Linked DNA regions of Homo sapiens. The protein of the gene in region 2 interacts with the protein of the main gene of each other region in a pairwise test. Each region holds a gene or a part of one and is shown on either strand. Other genes may lie near its edges. The genes, in order: FHL2, SAP30BP, OGT and ZNF212.

What was found.
Region 1: the proteins of SAP30BP (region 2) and FHL2 interact in a two-hybrid assay, tested with the Homo sapiens proteins (one study listed by BioGRID and IntAct).
Region 3: the proteins of SAP30BP (region 2) and OGT interact in binary tests that used the Homo sapiens proteins (3 or more experiments, as listed by UniProt).
Region 4: the proteins of SAP30BP (region 2) and ZNF212 interact in a two-hybrid assay, tested with the Homo sapiens proteins (one study listed by BioGRID and IntAct).

What each region holds. Positions count from the first base shown.
Region 1 is NC_000002.12:105,368,052-105,375,083, forward strand, and holds part of FHL2 (four and a half LIM domains protein 2), read right to left. Parts: intron 5,683-7,032; coding exon 5,508-5,682; intron 1-5,507. UniProt on the Homo sapiens protein: May function as a molecular transmitter linking various signaling pathways to transcriptional regulation. Negatively regulates the transcriptional repressor E4F1 and may function in cell growth.
Region 2 is NC_000017.11:75,663,070-75,670,369, forward strand, and holds the start of SAP30BP (SAP30-binding protein), read left to right. Parts: upstream 1-4,268; 5' UTR 4,269-4,303; coding exon 4,304-4,409; intron 4,410-5,446; coding exon 5,447-5,556; intron 5,557-7,300. Other genes in the region: RECQL5 (ATP-dependent DNA helicase Q5), read right to left, coding at 1,982-2,103, 3,359-3,488. UniProt on the Homo sapiens protein: Plays a role in transcriptional repression by promoting histone deacetylase activity, leading to deacetylation of histone H3.
Region 3 is NC_000023.11:71,571,072-71,576,392, forward strand, and holds the end of OGT (UDP-N-acetylglucosamine--peptide N-acetylglucosaminyltransferase 110 kDa subunit), read left to right. Parts: intron 1-2,548; coding exon 2,549-2,723; 3' UTR 2,724-4,821; downstream 4,822-5,321. UniProt on the Homo sapiens protein: Catalyzes the transfer of a single N-acetylglucosamine from UDP-GlcNAc to a serine or threonine residue in cytoplasmic and nuclear proteins resulting in their modification with a beta-linked N-acetylglucosamine (O-GlcNAc).
Region 4 is NC_000007.14:149,249,628-149,256,115, forward strand, and holds the end of ZNF212 (zinc finger protein 212), read left to right. Parts: intron 1-531; coding exon 532-921; intron 922-1,053; coding exon 1,054-1,180; intron 1,181-3,078; coding exon 3,079-3,168; intron 3,169-3,931; coding exon 3,932-4,788; 3' UTR 4,789-5,979; downstream 5,980-6,488.

The DNA.
Region 1 (7,032 bases), on a different chromosome or scaffold from region 2:
AGTATAAAGAGAAGTGTGGCATAGCTCCGATGAATTCCCATGGAGCATGACTTTTGGAGTCTAGGGACTGTATTCACCTATTGCACACCTGATAATGAACACCCCGTCTGGTTCACAGCAGGATGGAAATGGCTAGAGTGTGAATGAACCTGGAACCTCGAACCTGATTCAGTGAGCAGCCTCTACAACACTCACTTTACATACTGCCTGTTGAACCAAGTTGTGATGTATCTAGGTAGTTTTATGCACTGTACTAAGTGCTATAATTAAAACCTACATGTAGTTTTTTTTTGTTTTCGAGACAGGGTCTCACTCTGTCACCCAGGCTGGAGTGCAGTGGTGCGATCCTGGCTCACTGCAGCCTTGAACATCTGGGCTCCAGGGAAACTCCTGCCTCAACCTGAGTAGCTGGAACTACAGGTGCACACCACCATGCCTGGCTGAAATCTTCATGTGTTACTTGTACATCCCATTTAGTAATTGCCTAAACCTACGCCATCCATTGTCTTTTGAATAACTATTAGCATTTGATACATTTCTACCATTTCTCCAAGTGAACTGAGGAGCTCTAGAGAACTGAAACACTTATGGGTCACCCCTGCCACCACCAAGCTGGACTCACTGCAAGTGCTCGGTGTCTGTTGACTGACATTTTTTCATTTTTGTTTGCCAGAAAGAAGTGTATCTATTTATAGTAACGGATGATTCCAGATAGGCGTATAAACAAGTACCCTTCATATAAAGCAAAGGTAAAGAACAATCTGGGGAAATAAGTATCAGGGACAAAGAAAGAGGAAAGTGTTGTAAGTGCCCGGACTAGCTGAGGGGCCTGGCCACTGTGTAAGACCAAATCCAGACTGCTGCCTGCTTTTCAAATGAAGTTTTATTGGAACACAGCCACGCCCATTAATTTACTTCCATTGTTTACATCCGCTTTTAAGCTAGACGGCCGAGTAGTGTGCAGCTGTGTGCAGTTGTGCAGTTGTTGTGTAGTTGTAATAGTTGAGTAGTTGTGACAGAGACTGTATGGTCCACAAAGCCCCAAATATTTATCTGATTTTTGAAGGAAAAATGTTGCCAATCCCTGGGGACTGTGGCATGAGGGTCACATACATGTGACTTCAACTGGGGGTCAGGGAATGATGGGGAATCAAGCCGACAGAGGGACTGCCCCGCTCCAGACCAGGTGGAAGCAGCTGCAGTAACACAGGTGGCTTATAGGAGTCTATAGACTAGTCCATAGCTCTCAGCCCCAAAATCTTATGGTCCCAAGGACAAAGCTAGGGGTTGTATTTTAGCTGGCTAGAAAGTTGGTCATGAAATGTCTGTCCTCCAGTAATTAGGAATGTGCTGAGAATTATCACGATTGTTATTTAGGATCATTTTCTCAGCTTCCTGTACTTCCAAGACCAGACATTTGAGATTATATAAAATAAGCAGGGTGTGTGTTGGGGGGCAATGTGTGAGAGGGAATTTGGGATGGTGACACGCAGCGATCTTTTAATTCAAAACTAAGCTGTACAATCTATGGAATTCAATTGTGGGGTGATGAATCCTAAAACAAACATTACATGAAGCAATTGAAATTCAAGTAAAAATAGTGGAAGGACTTTGAATTCACAAAGATTTTCTTCAACCTCCATGCATACTTTTGTCACTTGCTCTTTGGATCTCTGACATTCATTCTGATCAAGCAGCCCAGAAGCCAAAGGATTTTGCCAATGAATATGGGGCAATTATGACTCTCATGGCATTCTTGTCGAGTTCTGAAATAAGTCTGATCAGATCAACACCAGTTCGAGGGCAACTCTACGTGCAGGGAATGCACAGGGCACCTGGAGCCTCAGGGACATGGCGCGTGCACCTCAGGCATGGCGACAGCAGTGGCCGCAAGCCTGCATGGTCATATGCAGCAATACCGGCAGGTGGCAGGAGCGTTCCTTCTCCTAACTGAATCGCACACTCTGAACCAAGTCTCCCGCAGGCGGAAGCGCAGTCTTGAAGAAGGGATGTCTTAATCTGATTCAAATAGTCAAATGAGGCTGGCTGCGGTGCCTCAGCCTTGTAATCCCAGCACTTTGGGAGGCTAAGGCGGGAGATCTCTTGAGCCCAGGAGTTGGCGACCAGCCTGGGCAACATAGAGAGTCCCTGTCTCTACCCCCCCAAAAAAAAAATTAGGCGGGTGTGGTGGTGTGTGCCTGAGGTCCTAGACACGTAGGAGGCTGAGGTGGGAGGATCATTTGAGCCCGAGAGGTCAAGGCTGCAGTGAGCAGTGATCGTACCACTACTCTCCCGCCTGAGCGAAAGAGCGAGATCCTGGCTCAAAAAAAAAAAAAGTCAAATGAGGAGCCAGAAATTTGGTTGCAGGGTTGGAGACAGAATCGCTACTTGAGTCTGCTCAGAGGCTGTGGTGCATCTGTAAGCAACGTCTGCTAATAGGGGCGCGAGAGCCGGTAAACCCCAGCACTGGGGTTACTGATGGTATTCCAGTTTCCTGATTGGTCATCAGGAAACTGACTTGTGTGGGGGGTGTGGAGCTGGTGGGTGAGTTTTTCACTTGTCCTCTAAATGTAAATTCACCGCAAAAGCTGTGCACTGACGCTGTAAACCCATATTCATCTTGAATGGGTTCTAACACTTTTAAAAATCAAACCCAGGCAAGCAAGTGCTTTGATTCAGTGTTTTGTCGGTGCTGGTTTGTTTTGCATACACCGGGATTCTTCTAGACGCCCTGCCTTTGGTGCCCAGTCCGTTTCTTCTGGCAGAGGCACCTGTAAAATGGGGATGAAGCCATCCAACCCAGGGAACACCGAAGATTCAATGGGATTCTGTAAAGCAGCAGGGTCTGACGCCTGTGTGTGTGCTCAGGGGCTGGAAGCTGTAGCTGTGTTGTTATTATTACTACACAGCATTTCTTACCACAGAGCCTGAATTCTTGCTTCCCCCATTCCTTAGTAGAAGAGGCTGCCGGCCAGTTAATTCTCAGATATTCAGTATGGGTTACCTCTCACTGAACATTAGGTTTTTACTTCTTATCTGATCATGTTTTTCTTTTCTTTCCCTCCCCAGTAAACACCATGAGAAAGGGAAGGTGTGATGGTTAATTTTATGTGTCAGCGTGGCTGGGCTCTGGTACCCAGTTGTTTGGTCAAAAAACAGGTTTACTTGTTGCCGTGAAGGTGTTTTTTAGATGTGACTAACATCTAAGTCAGCAAGCTTCGAGTGCAGCACGTTACCCACGTATCAGGGCCGGGCTTCATCTAATCGGTAGTGGGCCTTAGGGGCAAAGACTAAGGTTTCCCTAAGGGCAACTAATTCTTCTCAAGACTGCAATAGACACACCCTGCCTGAGTTTCCAGCCTGCCGCCCTACGGAATTCAAATGCTCCCATTTGGAACTGCAGTATCATCTCTTCCCTGAGCCTCCAGCCTGCTGCCCTGTTCTATAGATTCCAGACTTACCGCCTCCACAATCTCATGAGCCAATCCCTTGAAATCTCTCTCTCTCTCTCTCTCTCTCTCTCTCCTTATGTATGTATCTATGTGTATACATTTCCTTGATTGATTCTGTTTCTCTGGAGAACGTGACTAACACAGAAAGTCAAGACAGGTGAAAAATTCAAAATCCGGGAAATATGCATACTTTTTATGTCATGGTTGGTGCTAACAGTTAAAGTCTTTAAACAGCCCCTAGAGTCCCCAGTGGAAGCTTCCTTGGGCCCTTGTTCAGGAAACTAGTAAGGGTTTAATTTGTTTTTCAATTAATGTCGTGGTTCTTATTGTTACTGAGTGTTGTGTCTCTGCAGTGACTCCCTGTGGGGCAGGACACAGGTCAGCCTGGCTTTCTACGGGCTTCAATTCTCATTTGCACTGTCGCACAGCACTGGGGCCCGAGTTTCCAGCCTCTGCAGGATCCACATGATCTTAGAAGAGGCCTTCTTGCCTGGAGCTGCCCCATCTAAAGTCACCATGCAGCCCTTCCAGCTGTTTTCCCTTACAGCTGCCAACAGGGCTGGGACTGTGTCAGCCTGGGCATTTTTCTTCCCTGTCATAGTGTGTCACAGTTGTTTTAAAGTTATATTAACCAGAGAAATGTAGTGGCAGTAAGAAACCATCTTACCAAAGGTCAGATTACCTCCTTGCCTTTTTAAAAAATGATTATTCCTTATCCTACATAACTTTCTTTTTTTTTTGAGACGGAGTCTCACTCTGTCACCCAGGCTGGAGTGCAGTGGCGTGATCTCAGCTCACTGCAAGCTCCATCTCCTGGGTTCAGGCCATTCTCCTGCCTCAGCCTCCCGAGTAGCTGGGACTACAGACGCCCGCCACTATGCCCGGCTAATTTTTTGTATTTTTAGTAGAGACAGCGTTTTACCATGTTAGCCTGGCTGGTCTCAAACTCCTGACCTCGTGATCCGCCCTCCTTAGCCTTGCAAAGTGCTGGGATTACAGGGGTGAGCCACCACACCTGGCATCCTACATATATTTCTAAACTATTTCCCATATGTCAGTCTCTTCAGTATTTCTTTATTATCAAAAACAAAGCAAACCAACATGATGAAACCCCATCTCTACTAAAAATACAAAAATTAGCCAGGTGTGGTGGTGCACGCCTGTAGTCTCAGCTACTTAGGAGGCTAAGGCAGAAGAATCTCTTGAACCTGGGAGGCAGAGGTTGCAGTGAGTCAAGATTGCACCACTGAACCACATTGGCCAGGCCGATTTCAAACTCCTGACCTCAAGTGATCCACCCACCTCAGCCTCCCAAAGTACTGGAATTACAGGTATAAGCCACCGCACCCAGCTTCTTTCTGTATTTTGAAATTCCACATATTTTTGTCCACTTTGCTTTTTAAAATAAAAGATTCTGCTCTCCTACATAAAAAACAAAACAAAACAAATAACTCCCCCCACATACACACACAAAAAAACCATGAGGGACACAGTCCCATCAACACACAAGGCACCTTTATTGCCATCCTCGGCACCTGGCCCAGTTGCGGCTGTGCCCTTTTTGACTGTCCGTCTAGAACACCAACTCTACAAGGGCAGAGGACCAGGTGCACCTCGGCTCACACCCTACGAATGCTCAGCTCGAGCCCAGTGCCTGGCACGCAAGGGCACCATGCACACTTGGTGAAATAACTGAATGAGTACAAATTCAGCAGGTAGAAGGGAAGAAAAGAGAAACTATCTATGGTGGTGGGAGAGTGGGGGCTGATGCAGGAGATGTATTTTTAAGGGGGATACCCACCATTTTCTTACTCTAACAATTTGACTGCATAACACTGCCCCACGTGCACAGCAAAAAGATCCCGTTACTGCCCATGATAGAACCTGTATGTCCCTGCTTCGTAAGTACTCTAAATACTCCTCTGCAGTTCAAGGTCAAACTGGAAAGTCAACACGAGTGTCTGGAACCAAGTCAATGTGAACAGGGGGTCAGAGGAACGTGCACAAGGCTTGAAGCTAGACTGGCTCACGCATGAGAAAGGAGTGCCTCCTGACCTGGCATGATGGTCTTCTTGCATTCCTGGCACTTGGATGAGTACTCGTTGGAATAGCAGTCTGTACAGAGCAGCTGGTCCTCCTTGGCAGCAAAGGGCTTGTCCACCAGTGAGTTTCTGCACTGCGAGCAGTGGAAACAGGCTTCATGCCAGTGCCGGTCCTTGTAAGACAAGTCCTGTGGGGCCAGACCACACAAGACAGTCAGAGGCAGGACAGGAGGGCTTGGACCCACAGCATAGGGGCCCCTTGCGAATCTGCAGGGCAAACAAGGAAAGAAGTTGGGCCGAGGCACCCTGGCGCACCCACATTCATGCCCCAGGACCACCTAACTGCTGAAATCAATTAAGACTAGGCTGCTTTTCTCTTGCTGCATTTTAGAGCAACAGGTTAGACAGATGTGCATGTATGCACATGTCTGTGTGTGAGAGATGCTTCTAAAAAACAAAGGGATTTCCCTTATGTATTGCCTGCAAGAAAGAGAAACAGAAAACATGAACACCTATCAATTCGTCTCACACCACATCCGGTGACAGAGAAACAGACTGCAGGACATCCTTGGCTGAGGGAGCCCTGCCCAACTCAGATCACTGTGGTCACCGGCATGGCAGAGAGGCTCTGGGTGTCGGGATGTTCACAGGAGGCCCAAGGACTGTTTGGTGGGAGACGGTCAGGAGAGACTGTGTGTGTGGGTGCTACCTCTGTGGGTGGCCGTGAGCTGGGGGAGGAAGGGAATTTCAGGCAGAGAAAGAGCACAGACACAGAAGATCTGGGGACGGGGGGCATGTCAGATTGGAGGGACCACAGGCCAGGGGCGAGGTGGGAGGGCCCCCCGGCCTGGCTGGACTGGAAGATATGGCTGCCTTTTTGCCTTTTATGTCTGTGTAGAGATTCCATTGATCCTGAAGGCAGTGGACAGCTGCTTTTCAACAGGAGAGTGAAGTGCTCAGACTGGGGGACGGGTAAGGATGTGGGAGTGGAGGGGCGTGAGGGTGGGAGAAGTGAGACAAAAACTGAGCACACATGAGAGAGGCCCTGAGAAGACAGACGTGTGCTTTTGAGTAAAAGATGAGGGAGAGAAAGGAGCCCCGCAGAAAACTCGACTCCACACTTGGCTTCATCTTGCCTGAGGAATAAGAGAACCCTCCATATTTGCCTTTTAAAAATGACATACGGCATTTTTAAAGTGCCAACACAAAATTAAAATAACAATCTCTTTATGCCCAGCTTTATCTTAGAAAGGATATGTTTCTATTGCTGTCTTTGTGTTCCCAGCTCTGACCCCAAATCATCATCCATTTATACATGAGGCAGAAACAGAGTATTAGGCTCTGCACGGTTTCCTGGGCAGGCTTCCAGTTGGTAGGTATCCTGAACAGGGCACAGGAGGGCTGTTCACGCGATGGCCCTGAAGAAGAGCCTGCCCACGATGTCTCTGTTACTGAAACCGAAGTCGAAGCTGGAGTTATGCTGAATGTAGGATGTGAAGACATGGATCTTGGCCTTGATTAGAAAGTCCTAAAACACC
Region 2 (7,300 bases):
TTCCCAGTCATAAACTGTCCTCCTCCCACCCTCCAATATATATTCTCTTTGCATAGAAGTAGTAGAGGTTGAATATCCTTTATCAAATGCTTGGGACCAAAAGTGTTCTAGATTTCAGATATTCCTGGATTTAGGAATATTTGCAGATTGCATATACATAATGAGATCTCTTAAAGATGAGACCCAAGTCTGAACATGAAATTCATTTTTTCTTTCACGTATACCTTATACATATAGCCTAGATGTAATTTTATATATTTTTAATAATTTTGACATGACGTTGTGCACATGTACCTAGAACTTAAAGTATAATAAAAAATATATATTAAAAATAATAATAATAATTTTGTGCATGAAAAAACAGTTTTGGCTGAGTTTTGACCGCAACCCATCACATGAGGTCAGAAAGGTGTGGAACTTTCCACTTGTGGAATCACGTCAGCACTAAAATTTTTTGGATTTTGGAGCATTTCAGATTTCAGATTTTTGCTTTAGGGATGCTCAATCTCTATGGAAGGTGAAGTGGTTTAGAGCACAGGCTCTGAAGTCAGACAGACTTCAGATTTAGATTTCATCCTGGCTCACTTAATCGCCACATGCTCGCTGGCTGTTTCTTACCCTCTGAACGATTTATACAATTCTATCTAATAGCATTGTTGTATAACTTAAAATTTACATCTGAGAGGTGAAATTAACGTATGTAAGCCGGGCGCGGTGGCTCACACCTGTAATTCCAGCGCTTTGAGAGGCTGAGGCGGGCAGATCACCTGAGGTCAGGAGTTCGAGATCAGACTGACCAATATGGTGAAACCCTGTCTCTACTAAAAATACAAAATTAGCCAGGCATGGTGGCGCATGCCTGTAATCCCAGCTACTCGGGGGACTGAGGCAGGAGAACTGCTTGAACCCGGGAGGCGGAGGTTGCGGTGAGCCGAGAACACGCCATTGCACTCAAGCCCGGGCAACAAGAGCGAAACTCCATCTCAAAAAAAAAAAAAAAAAAAGAAAGAAAGAAATTAATGTATGTAAAGCACTTAGCACGAAGCCTGGGACCTGGTGAACATTCACCAAGTTATTACTGTAGTTCCCTCTCTACCTTCCTTCATGGTGGATGGCTCTTACCCACACAGCCACACTTCCTCAATTCTGATTCTATCAGCCCATCTGCAGGCCTTAAATAGTCAGAACACCTGTAGAGCAGATGTTAATAAGGTCCCAGACAGTTTCTCATCTTTTTTTCTGTTTCACATACTGTGCCCTTACCAAAATAAGCAGGACACCAGGGATTCCCCATATCAACTTAGCTATCTATCCATCTGCAACTTCTGTCTCAACATCACGAGTGCACGTGTGTGTATACATGAGACTGAGTGTATATGTGTGTACAAATACAGTTTCATACTCCTCTGAACAAAAAAATAACAAAGGAGGGTGAGGGACCTCAGAGGAGTCATTCATAACCTCCCAGAGTGATATGCACCAGTGGAGAACACTACATTGGGGAAATACAGAAACCCAATATAGCGAATGAGATAGGCAAATCATAGAAAATAAGAGGCAGGGGCGGGTGTGGTGGCTCACACCTGTAATCCCAGCACTTTGGGAGGCCGAGGTGGGCGGATCATTTGAGGTCAGGAGTTTGAGACCAGCCTGGCCAACATGGTGAAACCTCATCTCTACTAAAAATACAAAAATTAGCCGGGTATGGTGGCATACACCTGTAATCCCAGCTATATGGGGGGCTGAGGCACAAGAATTGCTGGAAGCCGGGAGGTGGAGGCTGCAGTGAGCCAAGATCGCACCACCGCACTTCAGCCTAGGCGACAGAGTAAGACTCTGTCTCAAAAAAAAAAAAAAAAAAGGAAAAAGAAAAAGAAAAGAAAATAAGAGGCAAAAGACCAATAGAGAAGTGAAATTTCCAGCCTCAAAAAACCTTCCCCGAATCTTTTTGGGCTACCATCTTCATTGCCCTAAGCCTCACCTGAATCAAAGCAATGAGAGGAGAGACTACAATGGTGATGCCTTTGGCCAACAGAGCAGGGAGCTGATAGCATAGGGATTTTCCTGCCCCTGTGGGCATGCACACAAAGACGTCCTTGTTACCTGAAAAAATACAAGACAACAATATCTCAGTGCTTCCTGCCTTTTCATTGAAGTTGTTGAAAATTAAATGAGAATGTAGGAAAAGCACCTAGCAGAGTGTCTGGCACATGGGAGGGTCTCGATGTAATCCTAATTCCCCTCCTGTCCTTTCTATGAAAAAGGCAAGGATCCTGGGAAACTTGGATACATGCCCAAACCATTTCTAGTAATGGTTAAAAACAAGATTTAAAAAGTCTGGGTCAAGCGCAGTGGCTCACGCCTGTAATCCCAGCACTTTGGGAGGCTAAGGCAGGCAGATCACGAGGGCAAGAGTTTGAGACCAGCCTGGCCAACATGGTGAAACTCTGTCTCTACTAAGAATACAAAAATTACCCAGGCATGGTGGCACGTGCCTGTAATCCCAGCTACTCAGGAGGCTGAAGCAGGAGAATTGCTTGAACCCAGGAGGCGGAGGTTGCAGTGAGCCGAGATCGCGCCACTGCACTCCAGTGTGGGCGACAGAGCAAGACTCTGTTTCAAAAAAAAAAAAAAAAAAAAAGAAGTCTGAGTCTGCTGTGATATGGATGATTGAACTAAACAGCCATGAAAGCAGAGTACTGCTAGATGAGTGGGTACATCTGTGTAGACATGAGAGGACATTACTTAGAGGGCTTTTGTTTAGACATGTATCATTAATATTACATTGCTGCTCGCCTCTTGGCAACTTCCATTTGTCACCGTATCTCAGGTTTATAACATTATTACTCTTTCCTTCTCTATCTGGGACCAAGGCCACTCAACCTGCAACAAGGGAATTACCTAGGAGGCCAGTGACCGAGTTAAGTTATTCCTACCACCCTCACTGTTGCTGTTCGTTTGTGTGTACAAACGAACAATAATGAGAATCTGAAGTGTTTTCAAAGACCATGTGTAAATCTAGCTATGAAATATAGACCAGCTGGGTGGTTCTGCCACTAAAACTACAAGCTTTGGGCCGGGCGTGGTGGCTCATGCTTGTAATCCCAGCACCTTGGGAGGCCGAGGTGGGAGGATTGCCTGAGCCCAGGATTTGGAGACCAGCCTGAGCAACATGCCAAGACCCCATCTCTAATTAAAACAAATAAACGAAACTACAAGCTTTGACAACTCTAAAGATTTCCAAATCCAGTTATGGACCAAAGGTGAGGCAGTACGAAGGGTGAGGAGGAGGGTGTTCTGCCGCAGCGTTATGGTATAGCCAGCATAAATTTAAAGGAAGGTAGCTTGGTAATGTTACCTTTTACTACAGCCATGGTCGCACTCTCCTGTAAAGGCGTCTTAAAAGAGTCAAACCCAAAGACCTTCTTCAGCGTACTCCGGACTCGCCGCTCAGGGTCAAAAGGAAAGGTGGTATGGTGGCTGCTCATCTTAGCCAAGAACAGTGGCCAAAGGTTAAGGCAAAGGTAGTAAAAGGTTGCCACGAGAACCCTCTGTTTTGCATTAAAAATACAGATTATTTTTCTGTAACAATTTGCTATATTACACTTAAATAATGTATTATTTTTAAGTAATAAAGCTGAAGGTGAACTGCCTCAAGCAATACATTCCTCAGTAATTAACATCTCCACTTTTACGCTCAATGAAAATGAAAACATTGAACTATTCCAGGCCACGGTATAGCACAGAGCTAGAAATCAGATCAAGAGAAGAAACATAAATGTCTTCAGAACAGCTTGGAGAACGGGGAACCGTTTTCCTAAGATCCACCACCTGCTCCTACTTCTATAAGCGCAACCACGACGACCGTTCTTCCACCCCGGGACCCCGAACCCCTTCTCCCGTCTTCCTGAGCCCAAGATCCGCAATTTTCTCTCTTGGCTGGCCGACACCTCCCTCTCTTCACCCTAAGATATCAGAACCGGCCGTGGTCCGCCCAAGAATTAAAGGCTGCTGGCTGGTTCCGGAACTGTTCGAAGACCCCTATACACAACCCCAACTCAGAGAAGCCAAAGCGCTGGGAATTCAGCTTTAGGCAGAACCCACGCAATCTTATATCCGTCGCGCAGTGATGACGTAGCGCGAGCGCTGGCATGAGGGCGGAGCCAGGCGCAGGAAACTGCCGTTTTGATTGGTTTCCAGTGTGGCGCGGGGGTCTCCTGGGATCCGAAAGAACCTGCCTTTCCGCCCGGAAGTCGGCGTCTTGAGTCATAGGAGTGAGCCACGCCCGGGCTGTGGGAATAAGATGGCGGGGAAGAAGAATGTTCTGTCGTCTCTCGCAGTTTACGCGGAAGATTCAGAGCCCGAGTCTGATGGCGAGGCTGGAATCGAGGCGGTGGGCAGCGCGGCTGGTAAGGCCCAAGTGCGAAGCTGGAAGGGGGAATCGGGTGTCTGCCCGGAATGCTGTACCCTCGCTGGGCGGGAGGGAACAAGATGGTCATTGTGCTCCAAGCACCGGACCCCGAAGAATGGTCCAGGGTCCGGGGTGAGATAGAGCATTAGAGACTGTGGACTAAGAATGAAGAATCTCCTTCCCGTTATTTCGATTAATTTGCCTAAACTTACTGAAAGACTCCGTGCCGGCTATAGTGATAGACAGAGGGATGGACGAAGAGGGAGCGGCTGCTCAGCCACTGCCTGTTTCCCCTGGGCTCGTTGTTTGATGAGGGAGAGCGATAAGTAAAACATACGTGGAAGATGGTAAAGATTGTGTTCGTTAACTTTATAACTTTTAGTTAGGAATGTGCCCTAAACACATCTTGGAGCTTTTAAAAACAAACGTATCTGATGCCCAAAGTGAGAGAACCTAATTCGGTAGAACTGGGGTAGGATGTGGGCATTTGTGAACTTTTTAAGGATCCCAGGTGATTTTTCTTATTTTGTGAGTTTTTAAAGCCTAACGGTGATGTTCTCCTCCTCAGGTTGAGAAGCACAATGTTAGATAATGGAAACAGATTCCTTTGGGAGAATAAAGAACAAGTTACCTAACAACATATCAGGACCTTAGCTTCCTCATCTGGAAAGTGAAGGGGATTGGATTAGGTTAGGTACTTCCATGTTTTGTGATTTTGTGTGGTCTCTTCCAGTCAGAAAGTTCTCTGATGGTTTCCTATAAACACTTTAGTGTTTATCTAGTGTTTATAGCATTAGAAACAGAATTTAGTACTCGGTTTTGTTCCCTGACCTTTTAATGATTTTATTCAGTAAATGCTGGCCTTCTCAGAGAGCCGAATCTGGGCCTATTGTAACTTAACATGAGATTTAGGTTCCCTTTGTATCTTCAGAGATAGTCTTGGCCACTCAAATCTCTGGACATTTTTTCTTACATTGTAACTCTTGTTTTTTTTTTCTTGCTTTTTGTTTGTTTGTTTGTTTTTTAACCTTTCAGAGGAGAAAGGCGGATTGGTATCTGATGCCTATGGGGAGGATGACTTTTCTCGTCTAGGGGGTGATGAAGATGGTTATGAAGAAGAAGAAGATGAGAACAGTAGACAGTCGGTAGGTAAATCTCCCAGATCCAGAGCTACTGAAAGCACAATTTCATTTGTCAGATTTTGGAACTGTGCCAACAGTGTTCCATTTCATGGTTAGCTCCATCCCTTGCTCTCCCGTTTTGTTTTAGTATTAGTGGAAGAAACTGGATTGGATATCAGATCTGTTTGAAAATGTATTTTCACATGGATCATTTTTTATTAATCTTTGAATTGAAATTTGGGGGAAAAGATAGTGGATTATTTTATTTAACCCAGATATCAATGGGTGTTTTATGTTGATTTTTCCCTGTTTAAATGATTTACTCCATTTATAGCAGGCATTCATCCTAACTGGTGTATCATTTATATCTACAGTCAACTCTGCATTATTTTTAATCTTGGTTGGGGCTCATTTAAGTCTTCTCAGTTTATTAACAAGATAAGAAAGGAAAATTCGTTTTCACCTGCTTTTTCTTTTCTTTTTTTTTTTTGAGATAGGGTCTCACTCTGCTGTCCAGATTGGAGTGCAGTGGTGTGATCATAGATAGTTCACTACAGTCTTGAACTCCTGGGCGCAAGTGATCCTCCCACCTCAGCCTACCCAGTAGCTGGGACTACAGGTGGGCGCCACCATGCCTAGCTAACCTATTATTATTTTTTTTTGTCGGAATCTTGCTCTGTCGCCCATGCTGGAGTGCAGTGGTGCGATCTCTGCTCACTGCAACCTCCACCTCCCAGGTTCAAGCAATTCTCCTGCCCTCAGCCTCCTGAGTAGCTGGGATTACAGACACCTGCCATCACGCCTGGCTAATTTTTGTATTTTTCACAGAGACGGTTTCACCATGTTGGCCATTCTGGTCTCTAACTCCTGACCTCAGGTGATCCACCCGCCTCATCCTTCCAAAGTGCTGGGATTACAGGCGTGAGCCACTGCTCCTGGCCGATTTTTAAAATTTAAAAAAAAATTTTTTGTAGAGACGTTGTTTCACTATGTTTCCCAGTCTGGTTTCAAACTTCTGGCCTCAAGCAATTCCCCTGCCTCACCCTCCCAAAGTGCTGGGATTACAGGTATGAGCCACCATCCCTGGCCTTCTTAACTTCTTTCTTGACATTTTATTTGGCACTTTTTATAATGGTGCCCTTAGTTCTTGATCACAAATCTTGCCTGAAGTTCAGTAGGTGCTGGAGAAAGGAGAACCTGTGCTATTATTAACAAGAAAGTCTTTAGACACATAATCACCTGAGCAACATGAGCCAGAATTTAAGTTTGCAGAAAACGCAAGGAAATTGAAGTTGGTGCTTAGCATAAGACAGGCAGAGTTGAGTCTAGATGTCAAATCTGACTGCTTAGCAAGTTTTAATTAAATCACTTAAAATATATTATTTGTTTGAAATTTTTGTTACATGTTGGTATGTAAATGTTAGCATTAAAATTCTTTCCAGCCAAGCACGGTGGCTCATGCCTGTAATCCCAGCACTTTGGGAGGCTGAGGTGGGCGGATCACAAGGTCAGGAGATCAAGACCATCTTGGCCAACATGGTGAAACCCCATCTCTACTAAAAATACAATAATTAGCAGGGCATGGTGGTACGCACCTGTAGTCCCACCTACTCGGGAGGCTGAGGCAGGAGAATCGCTTGAACCCGGGAGGCGGAGGTTGCAGTGAGCCGAGATCACGCCACTGCACTCCAGCCTGGGCAACAGAGCCAGACTCCATCTTAAAAAAAAAAAAAATTATTTCCACAACAAACAGAAATGCGTTTTGTAC
Region 3 (5,321 bases), on a different chromosome or scaffold from region 2:
ATTACAGGCGCGTGAGACACTGCACCCAGCCTGTGGTGCATTTTAAAATTTTTATTAGACTCTTTGGTACTTAGTTTGGTTCATACAATGCTTTTCCTCAACATTTTTGTTCTCAAAATTTTTAATTTTATAATAAACACATCTATACCTACTGCTTAGAATCTACCATTAGCATTTTACTATTCTTGCTTTATTACATATCTATTCATCCATTTATTCCCTTTATTCATCTGCCAATCCATCTTATTGGACACATTTTGAAATAAATTGCAGACATCAGTACACTTCTCCTTAAATACTTAAGATTGGCTGTCATTAACTGGAGTTCAGTACACATATATTTTTTTGAGGTAGGGTCTCCCTCTGTTTCCCAGGCTGGAGTACAGTGATACGATCTCCGCTCACTGCAACTTCCGCCTCCCGGGCTCAAGCAGTCTTCCCCTCAAACTCCTGAATAGCTGGAAATACAAGCATGAGCCACCACACCTAGCTAATTTTTGTATTTTTAGTAGAGGCAGGGTTTTGGCAGGTTGCCCAGGCTGGTCTCAAACTCCTGACCTCAAGTGATCCACCTGCCTTGGCCTCCTGAAGTGTTGGGATTACAGGCGTGAGCCACTGCGCCTGGCCATTTTTTTCTTTTGAGGCGGAAGTTATATACAGTGAAATACACAAATATTCAGTGAGTTTTGAGAAATAACCCTTTTTTTTTTCGTTTTGAAACGGAGTCTTGCTCTGTCGCCCAAGTTGGAGTGCAGTGGTGTGATCTTGGCTCACTGCAGCCTCTGCCTCCTGGGTTCAAGCGATTCTCCTGCCTCAGCCTCTTGAGTAGCTGGGACTACAGGCACGTACCACCACACCCGGCTAATTTTTCATATTTTTAGTAGAGATGGGGTTTCACCGTGTTAGCCAGGATGGTCTTGATCTCCTGACCTTGTGATCCACCTGCCTCGGCCTCCCAAAGTGCTGGGATTACAGGTGTGAGCCACAGTGCCCAACCGAGAAATACCTTTGTAACCCAAATTCCTATGAAGACAAAAAACATTATCACTCCAGAGAGTTTCTTCATGCTCCTTATCAGTCAGTCTTTTTCACCAACCCCCAGAGACAACCACTGTTCTGGAGGGTTTTTTTCCCTTCCATAAATTAGTTTTGCTTTTCTAGAATTTTATCCAAATGGAACTATGTCAATATGCACTCTAAAGGCTTCTTTCATCAAGTTTATTTCTTTTGCTGAGTAGTATTTCACTGTATGAATGCACTACAGTTTATTTTCCTATTGGCATAGAATTTTAAAAAAATAGAGTGCACAGGTCTTTCTCTTTGGAGGGTAGCATTAATATGGACATGGTTGTATTGAGACCAACAGATATGCACAACCATTTTACTGCTTCTGTCACAACAAACATTAAAACAAAGTTGGGCGTGGTGGCGCATGCCTATAATCCCGGCGCTTTAAGAGGCTGAGGGAGGAGGATTGCTTGAGCCCAGGAGTTCGAGACCAGCCTGGACAACATGGCGAGACCCCATCTCTACAAAAAATACAAAAATAGCTGAGTGTGGTGATGCGTGCCTGTAGTCTCAGCTTCCCGGGAGGCTGGGGCAGGAGGATTGCTTGAGCTAAGGAGGTTCAGTCTGCAGTGAGCCATCATCGTTCCATTGCACTCCAGCCTGGGCAACAGAGTGAGACTCTATTTCAAAAATTAAAAGAAAATAAATAAAAATTATTGCTTTTAAAAATGCACAGAAATGTTCTGGCTTCTGGTTCTAAAGTATTTATCCCTTCATCTAAGAATAATCTCATGAAAAATATATTCAAAAGGGAAGTAGAAATCTTTTCCCCTGTGTTTCCTGAAGAATCAATTACTTCTTTTTTATTTTTCTGAACAGAACCATACTCTTGGTGATATTAGCAATTTTTAAAAATCTGAACTCAGTTCAGGTACAAGTGGAAAATTACGAGAGTAGACTTATTGTATTTCTTTTCCCCTTGAGTGGTTTTCTGTTTCATCAAAATGACCATAAATCGAATACTTCATCTTATGTTTATGCTTTAACTTTTGTAAATGATGCTTCAATGAATATCTTTGCATGGTCCTGTATGTTTTTGCATCTGATTATTTCTTTTTAATAGATTTTAAAGTGTTACTGTTAGGCCAGAGGGTTATGAACATTTAAGGTTAATACATACTTGCTAAATTGCTTACCAAAAAGGTAAGCAACAGTACATAGGAATAGTCATGTGCCGTTGTCAATTCTTGTTATTTTAAAGGTAGAAACAAGACGAAATGGAGAACGCGTGGTATCCCTTGGATATACTTGTTTAGGAAAGAACTAAGTTTTTTCAGAGTATATGGAGTTGAGCTCATTTCAGTGTTAGCATTATGCAAGATGTGACCCTTCCCTTTTTAGCACGAAGCCAATCAAGAAATGAGATAGCGTAGAGTTTGGTCATGCATTTTTTGCCACAAATGCGACTAGGTATTTATAGGGTGTGTTTCTGAGTTTCTGCTCTGATTTGTAAACTGGGTTCTTGTTTTTTATTACCCAGCCTGAAGAAAGTTCGTGGCAAAGTCTGGAAGCAAAGAATATCTAGCCCTCTGTTCAACACCAAACAATACACAATGGAACTAGAGCGGCTCTATCTACAGATGTGGGAGCATTATGCAGCTGGCAACAAACCTGACCACATGATTAAGCCTGTTGAAGTCACTGAGTCAGCATAAATAAAGACTGCACAGGAGAATTACCCCTATACCTGAGCCTCAACCTTCTGGGGGAAAGGGAACTAGATAACATACTTCTTACTTGTCTGTACAGTACCTTGTTGCAGATGGGTGATATATAATGGTAATAGAATAGCACAGCCAGACTTGCTTCCTGCATGGTAGGGAGAGACACAAAAGATGGGAAACTGCTTTTCCACAAGGAATCTCCGTAGAATTTTGCGGCGACCAGATGGTGCATAGGTCTGGAAGGTCTGATCTCCCTTGGTCTTCCATGGGATGGTTAGTGTGGAGGGGAGATATAGATTGTCCGGCCGCTTTGTGATTCCATGGATTGATTCAGTCTTCTGGATTTTTTTTTCTTTATATTTTGGGTACTGGAGCTTTTAAAAATGTTTGGTTTCAGGTATTTTTATTCATGTGAAGTGTATATGATTCTCTTGAGATAAGGTTTTAAGCTAAAATGTTACTCCCTGTTTTAGTTTCTGAACTCTGACAGATTGACAGGGACTTTGCTGGTGTAGTCTTTTTATAGGTTTTATAAACCACTTGAGCCTATATCAGTCGTTTTAGTGTCTGACCTAATATTTGGAGCTATCAGTGCTTTGTTGATTTAGATGATGACTCAAGATTTTTTCTGGTCCATTTCCCATTTCCTTTTCTTCCCTGACCCCCATACCCTCACCCTTAAAATTCTCCTGTAACTCAACTAACAAAATCAAGCCTGATTCAAAACATCCTAGGGTGTTTTAAACACACCATCTGGTGCCAAATGAAGATTTTTAGGAGTGATTACTAATTATCAAGGGCACAGTTGTGGTACTGTCATTGATAATAATATAGTTTTTTTTTTTTTCCTAATTTTGACCTGTTTCACCAGTGTTTTACCCTTGACTGCCCCTTCTATGCTGCTTCCAAAAGTGATAGTGTGTGTAAGATTTTTACCTTCCTTTCTAAAGTTTTTTTTTTTTTTTTTTAAGTGAGTCCTGTTCTTCCTATTTCTTTCAGCAGAAATGAAATCCCAGGTAAGTATAAGTATTCAAGTATTTGATCAGTAAGTCACAGTTATCTCCAGTGCATTAAATAACCTTCATCAAGAAATAGGTTATAGGTAAAATCTCTGAAGGATCATCTATGTATTCAAGTAATTATTTTTTAGATAATAACTGTCTTCTGGACTTGGTCTTGAAGTCTGTACAGATTCAGCCTCAGTAGTAGCGAACTGCACTGCTGTTTGGTTTGGAGTACAAATTAGACTTATAGTCCTCCTGGAACTTGAGTTATTAAAATCATAGGAATAAAATTATGGGATCTCAACAAAGGGTCGAGGGTTTGAGGCTTAAACAAGCCAACATATGAATATATGTTTTGTCTCGCTATACTGCACTTACGCTATCCAGTTGCAGGTAATTTTTTGTCTGCTAGTAGTGTTCTAGATTATGTCTTTCCAAAGCGCTGAGGCTGTGCACCTATTCTGTAGTTGCAGCTGATGCCTGAATGTATCCTAGCTGACAAATTATTGATTAATAAGAACTTGAATTTCTGGAAGATTCTTACTGTTAACCAAATTTTGAGCAAGGAGTCTCAAAGGTAATTCTGAACCAGAATTACATGTTAATGAACAGTGTACCTTTTAACAGTGTAAATCACGGAATATCCGTGAAGGGATTTCTTAATTTATTTTTTACCGGTTGATTGAAATATCAGTTAAAGGTTGCCAGCATGGTTGCAGATAAACTGATGTTTGAAATTCGCTGAAATACTTAATGTGGAATAGGATAATATACTTCCAATGCCCTCAAGGCTGTGACCTTACAGCCATTTTACATAGCACATCATTCCTCCTATAGGGATGAACTTTTTCCTGGCACGAAAAGTAGCCGCTCTGGTTGAAGCTTTGCTTATTGTAACAGGCTTTTATTTCCAGGTAATATGTCTTGGAAGACTTAATTCTGATTAGAGATATAGATATTACTGGAAACTAATTGTTTTTTTTCTATTGTACTCTGCTTTATCAAAGAAGTAAAACATTTAAATCGTACTACAGAAATTAAGATGTTGTCTTGCGATCCTTAATAAATGAATGATTTCCCTTTAATACGGCTGATGTATTTTGTATCCTGTTATATTGAGTGTTGGACTGAAGAATAGTGTCATCCAATGATGAAACCTATATTTAAACACCTCCAAACAGCATGAAAGGACCAAATTTCCCTACTGTAGCTATGATATTAGGAATTGTTTTCTCAGCCAGGTCTGGTAGAGGGTGGGGTTAGTTTATGATCCATTAAGAAGGCAAAGTGGCCTTGTGTGGTGGCTCACGCCTGTAACCCCAGCACTTTGGGAGGCGGAGGCAGGTGGATCACTTGAGGTCAGGAGTTCAAGACCAGCCTGGCTAACATGGTGAAACCCTGTCTCTACTAAAAATACAAAAAAACTAGCCGGGAGTGGTGGCACACGCTTGTAATCCCAACTACATGCGAGGCTGAGACAGGAGAATCGCTTGAACCCGGGAGGCAGAGGTTGCAGTGAGCTGAGATCGTGCCATTGCATTCCAGCCTGGACAACAGAGTGAGATGTCATCTCAAAAAAAAAAAA
Region 4 (6,488 bases), on a different chromosome or scaffold from region 2:
TCTTTCTTTTTCTTTTTTGAGACAGGGTCTCACTCTGTTACTCAGGCTGGAGTGCACTGGCACGATCTTGGCTCACTGTAGCCTCAACCTCCTGGGCTCAAACCGTCCTCCCACCTCAGTGCCCCAAGTACCTGGGACTACAGGCATGCATCACCATGCCTGGCTAATTTTTTGAACTTTTTTGTAGAGACAGGGTTTGCCTTGTTGGCCAGGCTGGTGTCAAACTCCTGAGCTAAAGTGATTCAGCTGCCTTGGCCTCCCAAAGTGCTGGGATTACAGTTGTGAGCCACCACGGCCAGCCCTAACAGCTTATTGTGTGTGAGAAGATTTTGTGTAATATTTTCTTTCTATTCTTCATCATTTTCCAACATTATTAATACAATATCTATGTATAATTTTTAGTATCAATAAAAGACATGCTTTTTTTTAATTAAAAGAAACTAGATAACTCTGAGCACTGATACACTTGAACACTGCTTTCTTTACTTGATGTTTGGAAGTGACATTGACCCTGTGTCTTTAATCCATCAGCACAGGAGAAAACGACGCTCCACACCTTTAACTTCTTCCACACTTCCTTCACAAGCAACAGAGAAAAGCTCCTATTTTCAGACCACCGAGATTTCACTCTGGACGGTGGTGGCCGCTATTCAGGCTGTGGAGAAGAAGATGGAGTCCCAGGCTGCCCGGCTACAGAGCCTGGAGGGGCGCACGGGGACAGCCGAGAAGAAGCTGGCTGACTGCGAGAAGATGGCCGTGGAGTTCGGGAACCAGCTGGAGGGCAAGTGGGCCGTGCTGGGGACCCTGCTGCAGGAGTATGGGCTACTGCAGAGGCGGCTGGAGAACGTGGAGAACCTGCTGCGCAACAGGAACTTCTGGATCCTGCGGCTGCCCCCGGGCAGCAAGGGGGAGGCCCCCAAGGTAGTCTCATTGAGGATTAAAAGTTAGAAGAGAAGGGGGAGCCAGCCCTTTAATATGTAAGCACCTCAGTTGCTGGCTTTTCTGTCATAGCTGTGAGTAGAAGCACTCATGGTGTGCCATTGGTGATTCCAGGTGTCCAGGTCACTGGAGAATGATGGCGTCTGTTTCACCGAGCAGGAATGGGAGAATCTGGAGGATTGGCAGAAGGAGCTCTACAGAAACGTGATGGAGAGTAACTATGAGACACTGGTCTCTCTGAGTGAGTAGCAGTTTTCTCCCTAGAATTCTGTCTCAGACATACTACAATTCCTGGCTGGCAGCCTGTAATTCAGACCACACCTGTGGCTCCTGTGGCTGTGGGTCCTCTGTCGGCCTGCACGGGCAGAGAAATGCCAGTCTCTAGGTCCTCCCATTTACAGACCTGCACGGGTGGAGAAATGCCAGTCTCTAGGTCCTCCCATTTACAGAGACTTTTGGAAAGCTCGCAGCATTGTGCCTTTTGTGTTTTTTTTTTTTTTTTCCTGTGGTCACATAGTCTGTTCTTGATAGTATTTTCTAATAAATAAAATGTCATATACCCTATAGTGTGATATGGCTAGGGTTCCTCATGTTGTTTTTTAATTTATTTTATCTTTTTTTTTTCTTTTTTTCTTTGAGACAGAGTCTTGCTCTATTGCCCAGGCTGGAGTGCAGTGGCACAATCTTGGCTCACTGCAACCTCTGCCTCACAGGTTCAAGCGATTCTCCTGCCTCAGCCTCTCGAGTAGCTGAAATTACAGGTGACTGCCACCACGCCCAGCTAATTTTTGTATTTTTAGTAGAAATGGGGTTTCACCATGTTGGCCAAGCTGGTCTTGAACTCCTGACCTCGTGATCTGCCCACCTCAGCCCCCCAAAGTGCTAGGATTACAGGTGTGAGCCACTGCGTCTGGCCTGTTTTATCTTTTTTTTTTTTTTTTTTTTTTTTGAGACTCTGTCACCTAGGCTGGAGTGCAGTGGTACGATCTCGGCTCACTGCAGCCTTGACAGCTTGGGCTCAAATGATTCTCCCACCTCAGTTTTCCGAGTAGCTGGGATTACAGGCACATGCCACTGCGCCTGGCTAATTTTTTAAATTTTTTGTAGAGACGTGGGTCTTACTGTGTTGCCCAGGCTGGTCTTGAACTTCTGGGCTCAAGTGATCCACCCACGTCGGCCTCCCAAAGTGCAGGGATTACAGGCGTGAGCCTCCGCACCTGGCCTCTCATGCTGTTTTTAATATTTAAGACTATTTGAGATGGGTGTGGTAGCTCACATCTGTAATCCCAACACTTTGGGAGGCCAAGGTGGGAGGATAGCTTGAGGCTAGGAGTTCGAAATCAGCCTGGTCGACATAGTGAGATCTCTGTTGCTTAAAAAAAAAAAAAAAAAAAAAAGATGATTTGATAACCCTATGTTACCTTGGATGAGGCAGGCAGCACAGGCTGATCAAAAGCATTTTCTTGGTGTTTGGCCGGAATTATAGCTGGTCATTGTGGTCTCAGTGATTTTTTCTTGTTGATTAGGAGTGCTGCTTAATAGATATAAGTCTTTATATGCAAAATGTTACCTATTACATAATAAATGTGTTTTGTTTGGTAGACAAAGTCTTTTAAAACCTAGGTACATGGAGGAGTGTCAAGTGCCTGGAGCAGAGTAGGAGGTAAAGGAAATAGAAAATGGGCCAGAAAAGTGACCTTGTAAGCTTGGTTGGGTCACATGCTCTCATTGTGACTGTTTCCTTGTCTGTCCCAGTGCCCATCTTACCTTGCAGTGCCTTAGCAAGGATGAAATTAGATCCCCTGAAAGGAAGCATTGGCAAGACTTAAGCTGCACGCACATGGAGAGGCAGAGGTGGGTGGTGGTGCCATCAAGGGCAGTGGTAGCTCTGTAGCCTGCCTGCCTGAGCCACAGCCCCTCTAATGGAGGAGCACTGGAGGCAGCAGCTAGCCAAGTCAGTTGTTATGATTGGCCAGAATTTTATAATTGTCCCAAACTGCTAGGGGAAACTGACAAGAACAGTAGCCTTTGAATCTATATTTCCTCCCTGCCATTGGTCATCTTGGTCACTGGCAGCTGATCAGTGTGCAGTGAGCTTTCACTCTCTCCTGGGCTCACACTGTGCTGTTTCCCACCCAGAGGTCCTTGGCCAGACAGAGGGAGAAGCGGAGTTGGGTACAGAGATGCTGGGTGACTTGGAAGAGGAAGGTCCTGGTGGTGCCCACCCAGGTGAGTGGCTCTGGAATATTCTGTTCCCCTTCCATAGCCCTCTGTAGCCTAGAGTGAGCTTTCCCACGGCTGAAGTGCCAGGTGCTGACTTGGTGACCTCATCTGGCATCTGCTTGTTCTGGACTCCTTTATGATTGTCGTTAGTTCAGCTGTTACATATGCCTCAACTCCTACCACCCTGTGGGGTCTTTAAGACTAACGGCCACATCAATCATTATTCTTCATGCCCTACAGAATAGAGTACCGTACGAGGCGGTAGTCAAAACCTGCTGGAGATTGAGCGTAGGTATGTCAGAGCTTCAGGAGGGAAGGCAGTGCAGGAAAAGCACTTGTCAGTAGGTAATTTGGGAGGTTATGGAGGAAGAACAGAGCTGGACATGAATTCTTAAGCTGTAGGTTTAGTTTGTCTTTAATCATTCAAATTTGTTATTTTAACACTCTTAATTGAGTATAGTTGTTACAGTGTATTCTGTCATTTTTCACAGGGATTAAATATAAATTTGTAGACAAGCTTGGAGAACTATCATTTACAGTATTGTTTTATAAGAGTAATACATTTATATTTCCAATCAACATTGGAAAAACTGTACATGAATATAGTTTTATAGAAGTCTTGGAACCTAGCCAGTGTCATCCTCCTCCACGTTATCCTAATTCACTTATTCCTGGGGTGCTTCTGAAATTCACAGATGTTTGTTTGGTCCTGAAGAAACCAAAGGTACTAGAATGTGATCTTTTTTGTTGGTCTTCTTCCACTTTGCAGCAGGTGGGGTCATGATCAAACAGGAGCTACAGTATACACAGGAAGGCCCTGCGGATCTTCCTGGAGAGTTCTCATGCATTGCTGAAGAGCAGGCTTTCCTGAGCCCAGAGCAGACCGAACTCTGGGGTGGTCAGGGCAGTTCTGTCCTCTTGGAAACAGGTCCTGGGGACTCTACTCTAGAGGAGCCTGTTGGTAGTAGAGTTCCTAGCAGCAGCAGAACTGTGGGCTGCCCGAAGCAGAAATCTCATAGGCAGGTACAGCTGGACCAGGAATGTGGGCAGGGCCTGAAGCTGAAAAAGGACACTTCCCGCCCCTACGAATGTTCTGAGTGTGAGATCACCTTCCGCTATAAGCAGCAGCTGGCCACACATCTGCGCAGCCACTCTGGGTGGGGGTCTTGTACACCTGAGGAGCCAGAGGAGAGCCTTAGGCCCAGGCCACGGCTGAAACCACAGACCAAAAAGGCCAAGCTGCATCAGTGTGATGTGTGCCTGAGGAGCTTCAGCTGCAAGGTGAGCCTGGTGACCCATCAGCGTTGCCACCTGCAGGAGGGGCCCAGTGCCGGCCAGCATGTCCAAGAGAGGTTCTCACCCAACAGCCTGGTTGCCCTGCCTGGCCACATCCCTTGGAGGAAAAGCCGGAGTTCCCTCATCTGTGGTTACTGTGGCAAGAGCTTCAGTCACCCATCTGACTTGGTGCGGCACCAGCGCATCCACACGGGTGAGCGGCCCTACAGCTGCACTGAGTGTGAGAAGAGCTTTGTCCAGAAGCAGCACCTCCTGCAGCACCAGAAGATCCACCAGCGGGAGCGGGGTGGGCTGGCCCTGGAGCCCGGAAGGCCCAATGGCCTGCTTTAAGGGTGCAGCCCCTCGCCCGTCTGGGGGATGGAGGGGGGTGGCATTGGTTCCCCCGAAGAGACACTGCAGTCAGGGACTGAGTTCTTCCTGAGGGCAGTTGTTTGTGATTGCCTTCCCTTGTCCCAGTACCAAGCCAAGCCCAAAGGCTGTCCTGAAAACCCTGTGGAAGAAGAGTCCAGGCCAGGTCTTCATCCTGCTGCCAAGTTTGCTGTTTCTTGGCACCTTCAGGTCTCTGGTTTTCTCATTCATGCCAATGCTTGTGGGCTGGGGTTGGCGTTCTGACCCCACAGGGACTGGTGGCTGGTTCCAGGGCTCGTCCCGGCATTTCATGTCTTCCCACGGGGTTGAGTCGGGCCATAGGGGTGAGCAGCTGCCTGGAAGAGTTCTGGGAAGTATAACCCTCCATTTTTTCTTGTTTTATAATCTCTTTGTTTAATAATAAGTAGAAGAAATAATTTAAATGAACTGCTTAGCCCTGCTCTGAAGAACCTTTTTTGGAATTAGATTTTAGTTGATTTTTTAAAGAATACAGCCCAACACTTGTTTTTTACATTTTAAGAGTTGTAGAAGTTGTTCCTAACTTGGGGACTGGACCTACCCTCTAGGAGGGAGTTGTTAATGGGGCTCTTTTAGCCCACTGATGCTTACTTAGGCCGGAGAGCAGGGGACACGGTGCTAGGTTCCCTCGTGCAGTGCCTGGTGCTCTCAAATTGTCTCAAAAGGACCAAGAGGAAAAGAGTCGGAGGGGTAGACCCTGCAGCCCTGTTGAGAAGAAAGATTCCAGTGAAGTTGCTGATGGTATGGCTGTGGTCTGGGACTTGCGGTGTCTCGGCATACCCCTCTCCTCTTCCCACCTCCTCCTGGCTATGTTCTGCAGCCTCCCAGAGTAGAAAACTACTTTGTTACTTAAGGTTGTTCACCTTGTACCAGTGGTTATTTGAGTTTGTTCCTATTACACCAATCCTTACTTGAGGTGGTTCGGATTACAGTTTCCAAATGCATTCTGGGATTGCCTATTCCAGAGAGGGTACAGAAAAAGCACACAGATGGCTTGTCTCAGGAGTGTTGAATGTGTGCCCCGCTGCTGTCTGGGGGGATGGGAGTGGGCTCTGGGGTCATATGTGAACATCCCCTTGGATGATTTGCGGTTGCTTAGAATAAAACTTGCTACTAGCAAAAGAAAAAAAAAAAGTTCATACTGGATGTTTTTCTCCGTTTGTCAAGAACACTCTCCTGGGGCCAAGGTGGAGGAGAGGCACCTGACCTGGAGTGATGACAGGGAAGGACTGATGGCACAGCCTAACCTGCACTTTTACTTAAACCTAGGACAGAAGACAAGATGTGGCATGGGTGAAAATTTTCAGGGGACTGTACTTATGATGGTGGAGAGCTGGAGACAGTCTGGGTGATGGCTATTGGGAGGTAGAAAGAGTAGGTGAAATGTGGGTACCCCAGGGAGTGCCAGGTAGCTGTTACGAGCATTGGCTTAGATATATGCGTAGCCATCTGGATCCATCTTAAACACAATGCCGAGGGGAAAAGGTAAGAAATTGAGATCTATAATGTAACACCATTTATATAAATTAAAAATGCATGTACACAAAACATTTTGTAAGAACACTTGGGACCAAAGGAGACCCGTTAAAAGACATTACAGTTTTCCACGGGGAGAGCGAGCAAATAAGTAGAAGGAAACTTGG